Linked DNA regions of Homo sapiens: region 1 is linked to region 2. The links come from fine-mapping of genetic effects on gene expression. Tissue or cell type: whole blood. Region 2 holds a variant in brackets; the other region holds the start of a gene. All regions are shown on one strand. Distances are from middle to middle.

Region 1 (8,100 bases), 270 kb before region 2:
AGCTCTCCATCCAGGACCATCTGGGCTCCCTCCCCTCTTCTGTCCTGTACTCTGTGCAGGCACATCATTTTTCTAGCACCACTTGCCCCTCCTCCCACGCCCTCCCCAGGAGTGGGGAAAGGGGAGGTTTGGAACATCCTTTCTCTCTCATACCCATCAACCACAGCCTTGCTTTCCAGCTCTTCCAAACATTACCTCTTCAAGACCTCCTCTGCGGATCCCACCCAGAACCAGACTCACAGGAGATTCACGGCACAGACACCAGACCCTCACTGACATCCACCCACTCTTTTTTTCCGGGCAGGTTCTCCTTCCTCTGTGCCGAGGCCTGTTCCACTCAGGCTACTGAGCCAGGAGGCAGGCTTGGTGGGCTAGACACAGTCAGCATTTAATAACAAAGGTGTAATAATAATACAAACAAATATACTATTAAGATGAACCTAACGGTTGGAGTTTGCCAAGCCATCCTGTGACTGCAAATCCCTTTTCAATTAATCTTCATCAGTTACCAAATGAGGGTAGACTAGAATGATCTCTAGATATAGAGATATAGAGATCCTGGGCATCTCTATGCTTCCGTGAGTCTGTGAATGTTGCCTAAGGAGAATAAATGTGAGCTCCTTAGGCTATGAGAATAATAAGAGGGAGAGTATGGGCTCTTTGATATCAGAATAAGACAGAATACAGGCTGGGCACGGAGGCTCATGCCTGTAATCCCAGCAATTTGGAAGGCTGAGGTGGGAGGATCACCTGAGGTCAGGAGTTCAAGACCAACCTGGCCAACATGGTGAAACCCAGTCTCTACAAAAATACAAAAATTACCCGGGCATGATGGCAGGTGCCTGTAATCCCAGCTATTCAGGAGGTTGAGGCAGGAGAATCACTTGAACCCTGGAGGCAGAGGTTGCAGTGAGCCGAGGTTGTGCCATTGCACTCCAGCCTGGGCAACAGAGCAAGACTCCGTCTCAAAAAAAAATAATAATAATAATAATAAGACAGAAAAGAAAGAGAAGAGGAAGCGAAACGCTGAAAGGCTATCAGTTAGCTGGGCTGGGTGCAGTGGCTCACGCCTGTAATCCCAGCACTTTGGGAGGCTAAGGTGGGTGGATCACCCGAGTTCAGGAGTTCAAGACCAGCCTGGCCAACATGGTGAAAACCCGTCTCTACTAAAAATAGCCGGGAGTGGTGGCACACACCTGTAGTCCCACCTACTCGGGAGGCTGAGGTAGAAGAATCCTTGAACCTGGGGGACGGAGGTTGCAGCGAGTCAAGGTCGCACCACTGCACTCCAGACTGGGCAGAGCAAGACTCCGTCTCAAAAAAAAAAAAAAGGCCAGGCACGGTGGCTCATGCCTGTAATCCCAATACTTTGTAAGGCCGAGGAGGGTGGGTCACTGGAGGTTGCGGTGAGCCAAGATCGCGCCACTGCATTCCAGCCTGGGCAATAAGAGCGAAACTCCATCTCAAAAAAAAAAAAAAAAGCTATCAGGACTAGAGGAAGAGCGAAAAGTGAAAGGGCGGCCAGGAGCAGAGGCTCACGCCTATAAGCCCAGCACTGTGGGAGCCCAAGGCAGGTGGATCACTTGAGGTCAGGAGTTCAAGACCAGCCTGACCAATATGATGAAATCCCATCTCTACTAAAAACACAAAAATTAGCTGGGCATGGTGGCATGCGCCTGTAATCCCAGCTACTCAGGAGGCTGAGACAGGAAAATCGTTTGAACCTAGGAGGCAGAGGTTGCAATAAGCCGAGATCTCGCCACTGCACTCCAGCCTGGGCAACAGAGCCAGACAGTCTCATAAAAAAAAAAAAGGAAAAAAAGAAAAGAATGTACGGGGGAAGGCACAGGCTTGAACTCATACTGGGTGCCCTACCAGTGAAGTCGGCTTATCTCTAAAGCATCCTTTTAATCTCTCTAATGGAAGGATTATGTGTCCGAAACTTACCCCAAACCCACTTTCCAGTGTTTAGGGAACATCTGGCCTGATGTAGGCTTTCAATTCAGATGAGAGATTCACAGCCAACTTTCTGGGGGCCCTGGGGTTACGGGGCTAGGAAGGCAGGCATGACTGTAAGGTCTGAGGAGAAAACTAAGGGACGGAGTTGAGGAAAAAGAAATAGGTCCTTTATAGTCCTGGCTCGCTGGTAGCTCCCTCTCTCTCTCTCTCTGTAGTTCCTCAACGCCTATGTCTTTGGGACTCACCTTTTCTCCAAAGTCCTAAAATCTTCTTTCAAGTTCCCCATAGGCTCTATTGTTCCCCCAAAGGGCTCCTCAGATCCAGATCCTCCTCCTCACACACACCCACAGTCTCCCATTTAATCATCTGTATTCTCAAAACATTTATTGAGTGCCTACCAGACACTGTGTGAATACGTATCTAAGACAAAAATTCCTGCCTTCGAGGAGTTGTTAGTGGGTGCAACAGACAACTACACAGATTGGGTTGCAGTGAGGGCAAAAGGGGAAAGTCTTAGGTTTTTTTCCCCCAAGATGAGTCATCTGGAGCTTTTCAGTTCCTCAAACTCGTTCTTAGCTTCTCAGCCGGCAGGCCTCTGCCTCTGTAGTTTCCTGAGTGGGCCCCTCTCTTTCCACTTCTCTTCATCCGGCTAACTCCTAATGCCTCTTCGTGCTTCCTGTATGAAGCCCTCTTTGACTCCCCTCTGCACACAGCCTTCGCCCACCCCCTCCCCCACTCCAGGCTAGACCAGATGCTCCTCGTCCGGCCCCCAAAAGGAAGCTCTGTACCTCCCCTATCATGGCATCTACTACTCTGAATTATCATTGCTTGTTTCTACCAATGTGTGAACTCCAGGGGTACCGGGACCAGATCTCTCGTCCGCCGCAGCGTCCCGGCGCAAGCCTGTTCAAGGAAGGAAGACACCCTGCAGAGCTCGGAACCTTGCAACCCCCGACGCTGCTCCGCAAGCACCACCGCTGGAGCCAGCCCCTCCGGCAGGATACGCCCCACGGGCCCCGCCTCCTCACCTTCGCATTTGCTGGGCAGGCGAACCCAGTCGTTCTCCTCAGCTCCGGCCTGGCTCGGGCCCAGCTCCGGGGCCGGCAGCAGCAGCAGCAGCAGCAGCAGCAAGGGAAGAAGCAGAAGACAGCGGGACGCGGGCTCAGGCATTGAATCCATGGCCCGGCCGGGCCCGGACCCTAAAGGACCGGGCGGTTCCTCCTCCCGCGGCGCGCGCGGAGCAGTTTCCCCTCGCCGCTTCCGGGACTGCACACGTGCCTCCGAGCAACCACGACAACAGCTAGCCTCCCGCCCGCCCTCCTCTCGCAGCCGCAGCCCGCCTTCAAAGCGGACCAAGGCCCGCGGACGGCGCAGCCAATAGGCTTTCTGGGGTTTGCTCTCTAGCTAATGGGAAGACTATCTTTTTACGCCCTTGGCCAGTAAGAGAGCAGATGGTGGCCTCAGCGACCTATGGCAAAGTCCTTTCCCACCCCCTAACGGAGGCTCTGGGAGAGAGAGGATGCAGGACCAAGACCCGAGAAGAAGCCTGCGTCTGGGCCTGGGTGGGACGGATTCAGGCGCGCAGGTGCTGGAAGATGTGGGGAAGGCCGTCTTCGCGGCTTTCTCCGCCTCCTCGAACGTCACTTCCCTCCTGGGGTCCTAATGCCGCAAGTCCTTACTGAACATCTGTTTTTAAATTTTATTATTGGTATTGTGGTTGTTATAGCCGGGCACTCTTGTAGGCGCTTAAGGTGCAAGCAGGACGACTCAAACTGTCCCCAGCCTTCACACTTTTTTAGTAGCCAGTAGATTTGTCCTAGTGAGAACTAGAACAAATGACTTCCTCTCTGAGCCTGTTTCTATTTGTATGACGACAAAGTGATCCTCCTAGCTGCTGTGGGAGCTTGCCTGTTGTTGGGAAGCTCAAATAGGTTAATAGAATTAAAGCTTATCGAGCAGATTGTAAAAAGTTCAGGCATTAATTTTCTTTTTGTATGTAATCCCAGCCCCTTTTACTGCCCTATTATTTATTTCTTGATTCTGAGCTCTCAGAAGGCAGAAATTTAGCCGATTAACGATTGTCTCTCCCTTCCGCTTCCCCAGCAACAACAGGGTGCCTGGCACAAGGAGATACTCAGTAAAACTCTCATCTGCTGTGTCATTAAGGGGAACACTTAATGGCTCACGCCTGTAATCCCAGCACTTTGGGAGGCCGAGGCGGAAGGATCACCTGAGCCCAGGAGTTGGAGACCAGCCTGGGCAACAGATTGAGACCCTGTCTCAACAAAGAAGAAGAAGAAGAAAAAGGCCAGGCGCCGTGGCTAATGTCTGTAATCCCAGCACTTTGGGAGGCCAAGAAGGGAGAACTGCTTGAGGCCAGGAGTTCGAGACCAGCCTGGTCAACATAGCGAGACACCCCCCCCATCTCAAAAATAAATAAATCAAAATAAAAAATAAAGAGGAGGCCGGGCTTGGTGGCTCACGCCTATAATTCCAGCACTTTGGAAGGCCGAGGTAGGTGGATCACGAGGTCAGGAGTTCAAGACCAGCCTGGCCAAGATGCTGAAACCCCATCTCTACTAAAGATACAAAAAGTTAGCCGGGCGTGGTGGCACACGCCTGTAATCCCAGCTACTCGGGAGGTGGAGGCAGGAGAATTGCTTGAACCTGGGAGATGGAGGTTGCAGTGAGCCGAGATCACGCCATTGCACTCCAGCCTGGGCGACAGGGCAAGACTCCATCTCAAAAATAATAAATGCCGGGCGCGATGGTTCATGCCTGTATTTCCAGCACTTTGGGAGGCCAAGGCGGGCAGATCACAAGGTCAGGAATTCGAGACCAGCCTGGCCAATATGGTGAAACCCTGTCTCTACTAAAAATACAAAAAAAAATAGCCGTGGTGGTGGGTGCCTGTAGTCCCAGCTACTTGGGAGGCTGAGGCGGGAGAATTGCTTGAACCCTGGAGGTGGAGGTTGCAGTGAGCCGAGATCGCGCCACTGCACTCCAGCCTGGCGACAGAGCGAGACTCCGTCTCAAAAAATAAAAATAAACAAATAAAAATAAAGAGGAGCACTCTTGGTCTTCTTTAGGCTGCCCCTGAACTCAGTGTCCTACAGACGCACACAGACCAAAGTTGCTTCTCTGGGAAGTTGTCTGCAAATTGGCCATAAAACCCTGTTCCCTGATACCTTCTTGTTTCCTTCCTAGAGGTTGGATATTTATGCTATTTTATGAAGACTTCAGAGCACTGAGGCCCAGGCCTTGCCACTTTCTGACTTTAGTTTCTTGTCCAAAACTGTGTTGGTAACAAAGCACTTTGGATAGGCAGGGGCTGTGGCATGTGGAATTCCACAGTGTACAAGATCAGGACACCCTCCTAAGGTCCTCCATGTTTTCTAGGCTTGATAAGACTTAGGTTGGCTCAAGCTGGGCACAGTGGCTCACACTTATAATTCCAGCACTTCGGGAGGCCAAGGCAGGCGGATCACTTGAGGTCAGAAGTTCAAGACCAGCCTGGCCAATGTGGTGAAACCCTGTCTCTACCAAAAAATACAAAAATGAGCCAGGCATGGTGGCGTGTGCCTGTAGTCCCAGCTACTTGAGAGGCTGAGGTGGGAGAATTGCTGGAACCTGGGAGACAGAGATTGCAGAGAGTTGAGATCGCACCACTGCACTCCACCCTGGGGGACAGAGTGAGACCCTATCTCAAAAAATAAAATAATAAAATAAAATATAAAATAAAATAAAATAAAATACTTGGGTAGGCTCAGAGCTTGGCCATGGCCCTTGATTCACCTCGGCTCAGAAGCCCTCCTGGGAAATAAGATTAAGCCAGCCTGACAGTGGAGATTGAGAAGCCTGGGCTCAGCATCTGGCCGGACAGCTAGGAAGGGATAGTGGCCAGAGAAAGTCTGAGGCTATAGTTGGGCCCCTGCCCACACCCTCCCTCAGTCTGTGTGTCAGAGAAGGAACATGCCTTGTGGGGATGGTGGACAGATTCATCCGTAGAAGCTATGGGACCCTCCCACCCCAGCCACCAGCACCCAAGAATCCCCAAAACAAGTGGGAGAATCTCCTTTCAGGCTGGTGAGAGATGAGCAGTGGAGGAGGCAGTGAGAGTTTTTATGGAACAGTAGCTGAGAGAGCACAGAGGCTCAGGGGAGCTGAGGGTGTCCTTGAAACCATGTGTTGGGGTGCTGGGGCATAGTTCCCCATCCCCTCCCTGGGGGAAGGAAGACTAAAGTTGATCCAGCAGACTATCCTATGGGGCCCAAGGGACAGGTGGATTTACATGACAGCACCCAGAGTCTCTTGGAGTGATTACTAGCAGAGAACCCTTGGGAAAGTCTGGATTTCCTGCCAGCGCTGGGCAAGCAGGGGACGCACACGTTATGCTCTACTGTGGAAGCCTCATACTTGATCAATACAAGAATCTTCTTTATGTAACAACCAGACCAAAAAAGCCAAACCTCTTTAGTACCTGGCTCAGGGTTGATACTTAAAGAATATTTGTCAAATGAATAATGACTCTTAATTGATTAATAAACTGTAAGTTTGGAATTAATATCTCATACTCTTGTTATTGAAAACGATCCTGTTCCCCAGAAACCCTGGCCCTGTTCACCTCTGTACGAGAGTTCACATCAGACCCACCACCCACCTTCCTGGGTTCCTGGGCTCTCTGCCCTGACCTCTCACAGAGGTTGGGCCAGGGTGAGGAGAAGAGGGGGCCTCCCCGCTTGCTGTTGGGGGAGGAGACAGCCGCCTTCCCAGCCACCAGTCCCACTCTGCAGTTCCCAAGTTCTGTCTCAGGAAGCCCTCTTCCTCAAGGGAGCTTTCCTGGATTTTTCCTACTTCTAACTCTGCCAAATTCCTTCCTCCCAGGATAGACATGAATTCAAATATTTTTCATTTGCTGTGTCATTTAAGTTCTTTTTTAATGTTCTCAGTCATCTGCTCCCTAAATGCCCCTGTAACTGGGTGGATCACCATTCTCAAGGGGCCCCCTTTTGGATGGCAGAGACACAGCCTCACACAGTGTGACGCAGGGGAGGTAGAGCCCTGCCCTCAGGCAGCTCCAGCCTGCAGAGGAGGAGGCAGGTCACCTGCAAAAAATGCTCCAAGACTGGAGGAAGGAGCCCTGAGGGCAGATCTTGAGCACCAGGCCTGTGCTGGGCAAGTGGGGTAACTGCTGAGGTAAGACCCTTCCCCCCATACTGGGCTCCCGGGCTTCCGACCCGGAGGGGTGTCACCCCAGCGGCGGTCCCGAGGCTGGGGTCTGGGTGAGCTGGTGGCCTCTCGTCCCCCAGTCTCCGTGGCCGGGTGCAGTCGATGGGAGCCGAGGGCTCGCAGGCGGGTGGTGGTTGCGGGGGAAGGCAGCGGGCCCGCGGGGTCGCACAGGCAGCTGCAGGTCAGGAGCAGGTCAAACAGCAGCAGCTTGAAGAGCAGCAGCCGCAGGACCCCCAGCCACAGCGCCCCACCCGGTGTCCCTGCGAGGAGGAACCGCTCAGGAGCCCGCAGGAGCCCGCAGCCCCCTACCCCAGGAGAGAACGGCGGAGAGGGCCTTGTCCTCTGCCCTTGCCCGTCCCCTTCACCCCCTCCTCCAGGGAAAGTCCTTCCCGGTGTCTAGCCTCCGTTCTTACTGGTAATAATACATACCTTCCTGGCCTTCATTTTATTTTATTCCCCAACAATCATGGGGGTAGGGGTGGGGGCCACGCAGGAATTAATTAGCATCTGATGCAGAGAGTAACTAGCTCAAAATTCTTTTTTTTTTTTTTAGATGGAGTCTCACTCTGTCACCCAGGCTGGAGGGCAGTGGCACGATCTCATCTCACTGCAACCTCCACCTCCCGGGTTCAAGTGATTCTTCTACCTCAGCCTCCTGAGTAGCTGGGACTACAGGCGTGTGCCATCACGCTCGGCTAATTTTTGTATTTTTAGTAGAGACGGGGTTTCACCATGTTGGCCAGGCTGGTCTCGAACTCCTGACCTCGTGATCCACCCACCTCGGCCTCCCAAAGTGCTGGGATTACAGGTGTGAGCCACCGCACCCGGCCTCAAAATTCTCTATTTGGTCGGGAAGCAGAGTTGGACCACAGCCCAACTTCATGACTGTCCGTCCAGGCTCTTTCCATCACC
Region 2 (8,101 bases):
GGCATGATCTTGGCTCATTGCAACCTCTGCCTCCCAAGTTCAAGCGATTCTCCTGCCTCAGCCCCCCAAGTAGCTGGGATTACAAGCGTGCACCACCACGCCTGGCTAATTTTTGTATTTTTAGTAGAGACAGGGTTTCATCATGTTGGCTAGACTGGTCTTGAATTCCTGACCTCAAGTGATCTGCCCGCCATGGCCTCCCAAAGTCCTGGGATTATAGGCATGATGTTTTTTTCTATTCAAGTCTTTAGGTCTGTATTTATTGAGTTACTTGGTACATGCCAGGCACAGCTTTCAGGTAGCTCTACGTACATTATGTCACTTTATCCTAATAACACCTATGAATTATCCTCACTTGACAGATGAGGGAATTGAGGTACACAGAGGTCAAGCAATTTGCCCAAAGTTGCACAGCTAATAAGTGGTGGTGCTGGGAACTGAATCAACCAGTCTAGCTCCAGAATCTATGCTATACCTTGTAACTAACTGGCTATGGGGTAAAATAGGGTGGAAAATATTCTGGTTTTAATCCTGGGTTACTAAGAGCTTGGTTAGGTCATTAATAGAAATTTTGAAGTCAGACGGAAGTGCGGGATTCATTGGGGAGGCTGAGCAGTTTGTATTTAGAATTACTGATTAGATGTTGTCAAGGAGAGCCAGGTAAAGAAAGGGGTGTGGCAGGGGTCAGCAATGCTGACTAGGAGAGGGTGGTGAGAGTTAAACATGCCACATGGTTCTTAGATTTTTTTAATGTACTGCAATAAATACCATCAAGTAATGCTTAAACTTTTTTTGTTGTTGTTGTTGAGACAGGGTCTCACTCTGTCACCCAGACTGGAATGTAGTGGTGCAATGAAGGCTCACTGCAGCCTCCACCTCTGGGGCTCACACTATCCTCCTGTCTCAGCCTCTGCTTAAACCTTACAACTAAAGATCAGTATCCTATAACATTTTGCTCCCTCACTTGCCAAATCATATTCCTCCTAACTGCTGACTTAATCATTCATTTCAAATGGGTCAAATATTAAAGGAGTAAAATAATATACTCACTTAGGACGAAAATCAGGCCTGAACCCTTCAGGGAGCTGTAATTCATCCACATTTTCTGAATTCTTTGTAGAGGCATTATCTATAGAAACAGGCATTTTATACTATTATTCAATAGATGACAATATTCCTAAAAGTACAGCCATATAGGTCAAAGAAATCAAAAACAAAAGGAAAAAAATTCCCTAATAAAAACTGGCATAACAACCATATGAAGCATGAAAACGTTATTGCTCTAGTTGACCAAGGCCCTTTCTTAACTATGCTTTTCCTTATAGTACAGCCACTAAAACAAAAACAAGAGTAGCTATTCTGTTTCTATGAAAACCAATGATATAAATCCTGTTCATACTACGTTCCCACAAGGTCATAAGTGCAGTGCATGGTCTATGAAACTTGGGAAGCCTTTGGTAATGCCAACAGTAAGGTGAGTTAGCCCACCGAGAACTAAAGCTAGCTCTGCAACACTCAGTTACATCTCCCCCACCTCCAGAAGCTCTTCAATAAAATGGGGGAATAAGTGAGAAGTGTTTATTAGAAACTTCACATGAGCTTGTGTGTTTAAGGAATAAGGAGTAATGCAGTAAAGTCAAATTTAGTTTATTAAGACAAGGAAAATTAGAATGAGTCAAAATTTTAAATGGGAGGTTTCACTTTTAAACAACTTCTTCTGGAAATACATTTTCTGATGACCTCGGACTTTAGGGAAAAATGAAAACAGGTTACCAGAACTTACTAGGAGTACTTTCTTCTTTCCTAAGAAACTGTAATGCTTTTATTTGCTGAGATATTGTTCTAATCCACTGAGTCAGATTTGGTTGGTCTGAAAAATTTAACCTGCTAGAAAAGATTATAGAGAGTATTTAGTGTTTTATTATTGTTCCTTAAGATACAAAAGACTCCTTAAATGATCACAGGCATATTTTAGACACACTCCAAATATTAAAAACAAAAAGGATAAGGGAAAATTTGTTGCATTAAAAAAAATCAGGATATTGGCCAATGGAAAGGAATATATTATTTGTCAATATGATGGTAATAACACTGTGTATTAAAAATCTCACTCTTCAGTATTGGAATTTGCTAGAATTTCTTAAGTATCATAATCACCATCACTATTAATATCTACCAAGTGCTTATTATGTTACAAGCACTTAGTAAGGAATTTTACTGTAAATATCTTATGGTATTAGACTTAATCCTCAAAATATCCCTACATTTTGTTTCAGGTTGTATTATTATTTGCATAGGTTGTATTCCTATATTTTGTAATAGGTTTTATTATTGTCCCCATTTTACAGATGAGGAAACTGAGGTTTAGAGCTATGTAACTTGACTAAGGCCGAATAAGGGACAAAGCTAGCATTCAAACTTGGCTCTGTCAGATTCCAAAGCCTGTGTTCTTTTTATGATTGTATTCGAATATGACTAAACCATAATTGAATCTCATGGGCAAAACCCAAAAATTGGACCAATAAAGTGACAGATGAAATCCAACAAGGGTGATTTCTTCTTATACACAGTTAATCCTCCATCTAACAATAATTAATTTCTTCATCAGTTCAAATGCAGATAAGTCAGTACCACGATATTCTTTTATAATTAAAAAGCATGAGCTTACACTCAAATCTACTAATATTTTAAGAACATTTTGTGGTAGCATAGACTAAGAACACCAAAGTTTGAACTCCTAAAACTGACAAGAAAAAACTGACTTTGCTTTGAACTGAATCCAAATAACACAGAAATGGATCGTTTATACTCACATAACTTAGTATTTGTGCATGCAACGTAGATAGCATAATTCTACATTGAGAAATGAAGTTCAGATTCGAAAAGCAGACATTATCAAATTCATACTCGAAATGAGTATGTCCAATACTCGTAACTAAAAGCATCCAAAAAACTGTGAAGTTACAGAAATTTTCCATTTTCTTTTCTTATTTTTTTTTAGTCTGCTAGACAAATTCTAAAAGAGCTAAAAATATGGAACACTTCATGAATTTGTGTGTCATCCTTGTGAAAGAGCCATGCTTATCTTCTCTTTATCGTTCCAATTTTAGTATATGTGCTGCTGAAGCAAGCACTTATTTTATTTTTGAGACAGGGTCTTGCTCTGTCACTCAGGCTGAAGTGCAATGGCATGATCAAAGCTCACTGCAGCCTTGACCCAAGCGAGCCTCCCACCTGAGTCTCTGAAGTAGCTGGGACTATAGGAATATGCCGCTACATCCAGCTAACTTTTTATTTTTTGTACAGACAGGGTCTCACTATGTTGCCCAGGCTGGTCTTGAACTCCTGGGCTCAAATGATCCTTTCATCTTGGCCTCTCAAAGTGCTAGGATTATAGATGTGAGCCACAACGCCCAGCTGAGATTTTTCCATTTAAAATATACCAACAGATTTTCACTTTTTTGCCTGGTTCTTAAAACTATGAATGGCCAGTACAGCAAAAAGTTTTATTCGATTTTTAGACTGTCCTATAAAGTCAGTTTGAGTTGTTCCATCTCCCTCTACCAGTTTACTGAGCATCTCTTGAAAAGTGTATGGAAGATATTAAAAGTAGGGTCCCTAGAAATAAACCAGATACTTGGTTTTCATAAATACATAGGAATTTAATAGCTTAGAAACTGTTAAATTTTCACCTGTTCCTCTCTAAAAACTAAAATCACATTCCACAGGTCTGCTAGAAGAAAATGATTAGAGTTTGGAAA[G/A]TATCTGGAAAACACTATGCAATTGCCTAGACTAAGTTTTCCTCCTTGATTTATTATTTCATTATCTTCAAAGCAAACTATTGCTTTGTAATAGTTGTCATGAGCCAAAACTTACTTGTTAAAAATATTTCTTGGAGGAAGCAGCAGAGGAATAACAGTATTACTCAAGCATTCACAAAGGGGGCAAAGGAATTCTCCGTTTTCTACATCATAGCTCGTATGTAAGCGTAATCTCTGTTGCCTTCGCTGTTCTTTAGCTTGAACGGAATCAAAATACCTTTACAATTAGAGAACATGAGGTATCAAAACAATGGTAATTTACATAAATGACAGCCATAAGCTTCAACATTTAAAATAATTTGTTTCCACAAATAGTTCAAAAATGAAAATCTTAAACTAAATTATTTTTAACATGATTTTTGAGTGATTTTAAAAATCCAAATGGATTAAAAGTTCTAAAAGAGTAAAATAAAAAAAAAGACTGCCATGTAAAAAAGCATTCACAAAGCAGCAACAAAAATTTCTTGGTGTCATTGTTCTCTTGCCACTTCCCCAAGGCTGGTGGCTATTTGTTTTTTTTTTGTTGTTGTTGTTGTTTTTGAGATGGAGTCTTGCTCTGTCGCCCAGGCTGGAGTGCAGTTGCACAATCTTGGTTCACTGCAACCTCCACCTCCCACATTCAAGCAATTCTCCTGTCTCAGCCTCCCAAGTAGCTGGGACTACAATGTGGTGGCTAGTTGTTAGGGGTAGTTCATGATAACTGGGTGAGCATAGTTCTAGAATAATAGTATTATTGATTTGTTGGTTTTGTAGAAGCATAGGAAACACCAAGGTAGAACAAATTCAGGACATCTCATCACAGGGAGCCATTACAATTTTGGGAAGTAACAAAGCAAGTACTAACATCTATGGAATCAAAAGTTGTCCACCCTGGACCCAAAGAAAGACAACATTACCCTTCTAGAGTTTATCCTACTGTAAAAACCCTTTTCTTCATCCACAGACTGATACAGATCCACTTCCTTCTTTGGAAGATATAGAAGAGACTTGGATATAAAGCTAAATTAAAAAACATATCTGACATACACTTTACATCTATGACAAGGCAAATAACTTTTGTTATTTATTAGGCAATGATACGGATTTTTTCAACATTTTTAGTTCTTTTCCTTTTTTCTAGAATGAAATTTCCTCTATTTAAAAAATATTGAGCCCTTAGATAAACTTCTCTTGACAAATATTAAGAATATACATTACCTTTGCCAACAATGGGCATGCATAATGTGCCCACAGCTACTAGTGTGTGTTCCACAAGACAGATCAGGGTGCATGAATAATGGATCATATTTTTCTGCATTACAAAACAAAACAAAACAAAACAAAAGTGAAGCATTTAATTTTCCTATAACAAATGTGTAACTTTAAATTGTAAAATCCTTGATAAAGACTTGAAATTTGAAATGAAATGCTAGTTTATTCCTCTGAGATACCAATTTATGCAACACCTTGGATTATTTAGAAAGTAGGACTCTCTAATTTTCACCACCCACAGCAAATTAATTAAACATTCTCAAATTGTTAAACTGAAATTAGAACTATGAATTTAAATATATCCAATCTTTTGAACATTTCACACTTTCAGGGTGCTGAGATATTCCAATTCCTCCCATTGTACCCTGAGCTCCAGGTAAAAGAGCTACTCTCTTCATGGGGCTGCCTTATGTGCGTTCAGGGCAGCTGGGTTAAAATGATCGCTAATAAAAAATGTTTTGGCAGTAACGGGGCGCCCCCTAGAGGACAGACTGCCTAACAACACTCATACAGCGAATAATCACATCAGAGCCAAAGTGACAACAAAAAATCTAAGCACAGACCAGATCAGATGGGGGGAAAAAAGGTAATTCAGAGTCTTCTGTCCTGGTGCTAATTTTTATATTCAAAGGGGATGAAAAATCATGAAAAACAAGATGGATGTCTGGCTTCTTTTGGAATTTTTGAATTCTTTATATAAATTAGTATAATCTTCGAAATTTCCTAACACTCTAGAAAGAACTACTTTTAATTTGCTTTAATAGTTTTAATTTGCTTTAACACTAGAACAGTGCAAATGTCAAAGCATTAAGAAAATCCACTTATAGCCAGCTAATGCTTTTTCTTCAGAAGTAATAAGTTAAATAAAATTAGCAACTTTGTCTTTGGCCTGGAATGAAATTTATAAAGCACCTAGTTTAAATATCTTTTTTTTTTTTAAGACAGTCTCGCTTTGTCGCCCAGATTGGAGTGCAGTGGCGCGATCTCGACTCACTGCAAGCTCTGCTTCCTGGGTTCACGCCATTCTCCTGCCTCAGCCTCCCGAGTAGCAGGTAACTGCCACCACGCCTGGCTAATTTTTTTTTGTATTTTTTAGTAGAGATGGGGTTTCACTGTGTTAGCCAGGATGGTCTTGATCTCCTGACCTTGTGATCTGCCTGCCTTGGCCTCCCAGAGTGCTGGGATTACAGACATGAGCCACTGCGCCTGGCCTTTTTTTTTTTTTTTAAAAACAAACAAACAAACAAACAAAAAAACCACACAGGGTCTCGCTCCGTTGCCCAGGCTGGAGGGCAGTGGTGCAATCTCGGCTCACTGCAACCTCTGCCTCCCAGGTTCAAGCAATTCTCATGCCTCAGCCTCTTGAGTAGCTGGGACTACAGGCGCGTGCCACCAAATTTGGCTAGTTTTTTTTTTGTACTATTAGTAGAGATGGGGTTTCGCCATGTTGGCCAGGCTGGTCTTGAACTCCTGACCTCAGGTGATCCACCTGCCTCGGCCTCCCAAAGTGCTGGGATTACAGGCATGAGCCACCATACCCAGCCTAAATGACCATTTTTAAAGATGAAGCAGACCAACCTTTCATAAGTAGGATGCAAAGACTTTCTTTACAGAGAGAAGGCAACTCTAAAAGTGGGCTCTCAAACCTCCTTTCACGCTGCAGTGTGAAAGGCACTGGTTAAAGCAGTGCTCTGGGAATTCCCAAGACACAGTTCCTACTCTCAAGAAGTTTACTGGGTATCGCTGAAGCACACGCACACAGAGCACAACCTACAAGCAGAGAAATAAATGTGTCTGTGGTGGACAAAATCATGTGCGGACTGGATCTCCCTGCTTTACTCCCTCAGTTGCTGAAAGAGGGCCCTCAACTGTCCTGCACGGTAATCTGTATCCCAAGAATCTGCTTTCTGGGGAACCCGATCTGTGGTGGTATTACTATTCTAAAACAATTTGGCTCAAGGATTGCCTCTTACATAGGTAACTCTCCATCACTGTTCTCAGGAGATTCCACTCAGGCTCTATCAATAAGACAAAACAATTATTATTTCAGTGTGTCAACAAATGACCAGGACTTTGCAAGTGTACTGAAGGATGGAAAAGACTGTGAAATGCCAAAGTATGTAATGTTACATCACAAAGAAAAGCTTTTCTTTGAATCCCTGCTATTTATCAGCTATGTGATTCAGGTGCAACTTTCTGGAGTGGTTCCACATCTGCCAAGTGGGGAATTCCTGCCTAAGTTACCTGCCAAAGATACCATCCAAGTCCATGGAGTTATTTTTAGGTTTAAAAAATCTCAACGTATCACCAACCACATTAACTGGCAGTTGTTATTAAAAGGGAAGATGAGGATCTAGCTATGACTTACCTGGATCTTGAATAAATTTACTTCTGTTTTTTGATAATACAGTTGATCTCTGAACAAATGCTGCCAAGACCATTGCCCTGCTTTCCACTTTAACTTCTTGCTCCTCTTGACACAATATACATGTAACGAATTGTCTTTGTTCAGGAACCTGAGTTTGTGCGGGGCCCAGTGCTGTAAGTGTCATATCTGAAGCCACAGGGCTGCAATACAAAGGTTATGAATATAATTAATGATCCCAAAACTTTCTATATAATCACAAAATAGCAGACTACAGGTATGTGTGTGTGTGTGTAGTGTGTGTGTGTGTGTGTGTGTGTGTGTGTGTGTGTGTGTGTATATATATTTATTTATTTTTTGAGACAGAGTCTTGCTCTGTCACCCAGGCTGGGGTGAGTGGCACAATCTTGGCTCACTGCAACCTCCGCCTCGCAGGTTCAAGCAATTCTCCTGACTCAGCCTCCTGAGTAGCTGGGATTATAGGCATGCACCACCACACCCGGCTAATTTTTTTTTTTTGTATTTTTAGTAGAGATGGGGTTTCACCATGTTGGTCAGGCTGGTCTCGAACTCCTCACCTTGTGATCCGCCCGCCTTGGCCTCCCGAAGTGCTGGGATTACAGGCGTGAGCCACCACGCACAGCCAGGAATGTATATATTTAAC

Evidence for each region. PIP is the estimated chance that this variant, and not a neighbour inherited with it, causes the effect.
Region 1: it holds the start of CNPY3, and the variant in region 2 is fine-mapped to the expression of CNPY3 in whole blood (TOPMed, PIP 0.97).

Annotation. Positions count from the first base shown.
Region 1 is chr6:42,924,609-42,932,708 of GRCh38, reverse strand. It overlaps CNPY3 (canopy FGF signaling regulator 3), which reads right to left and starts at 3,229. Exons shown (of 6, transcript NM_006586.5): 1 at 2,988-3,229. The coding sequence starts at 3,138. PTCRA (pre T cell antigen receptor alpha) reads right to left here. Exons shown (of 4, transcript NM_138296.3): 4 at 6,871-7,448. The coding sequence ends at 7,027. CNPY3-GNMT (CNPY3-GNMT readthrough) reads right to left here and starts at 3,229. Exons shown (of 5, transcript NR_134892.2): 1 at 2,988-3,229. RefSeq lists enhancers at 2,511-2,620, 2,931-3,190, 2,833-3,334, 3,641-3,690, 3,701-3,750 and 1 more.
Region 2 is chr6:42,659,195-42,667,295 of GRCh38, reverse strand. UBR2 (ubiquitin protein ligase E3 component n-recognin 2) reads right to left here. Exons shown (of 47, transcript NM_001363705.2): 30 at 7,441-7,640; 31 at 5,019-5,112; 32 at 3,877-4,038; 33 at 1,784-1,887; 34 at 1,051-1,129. It also overlaps the pseudogene RNU6-890P. Among named protein-coding and RNA genes, the nearest start is that of PRPH2, 59 kb to the left of the region's middle. The variant G/A (reference allele first, on the strand shown) is at 3,762.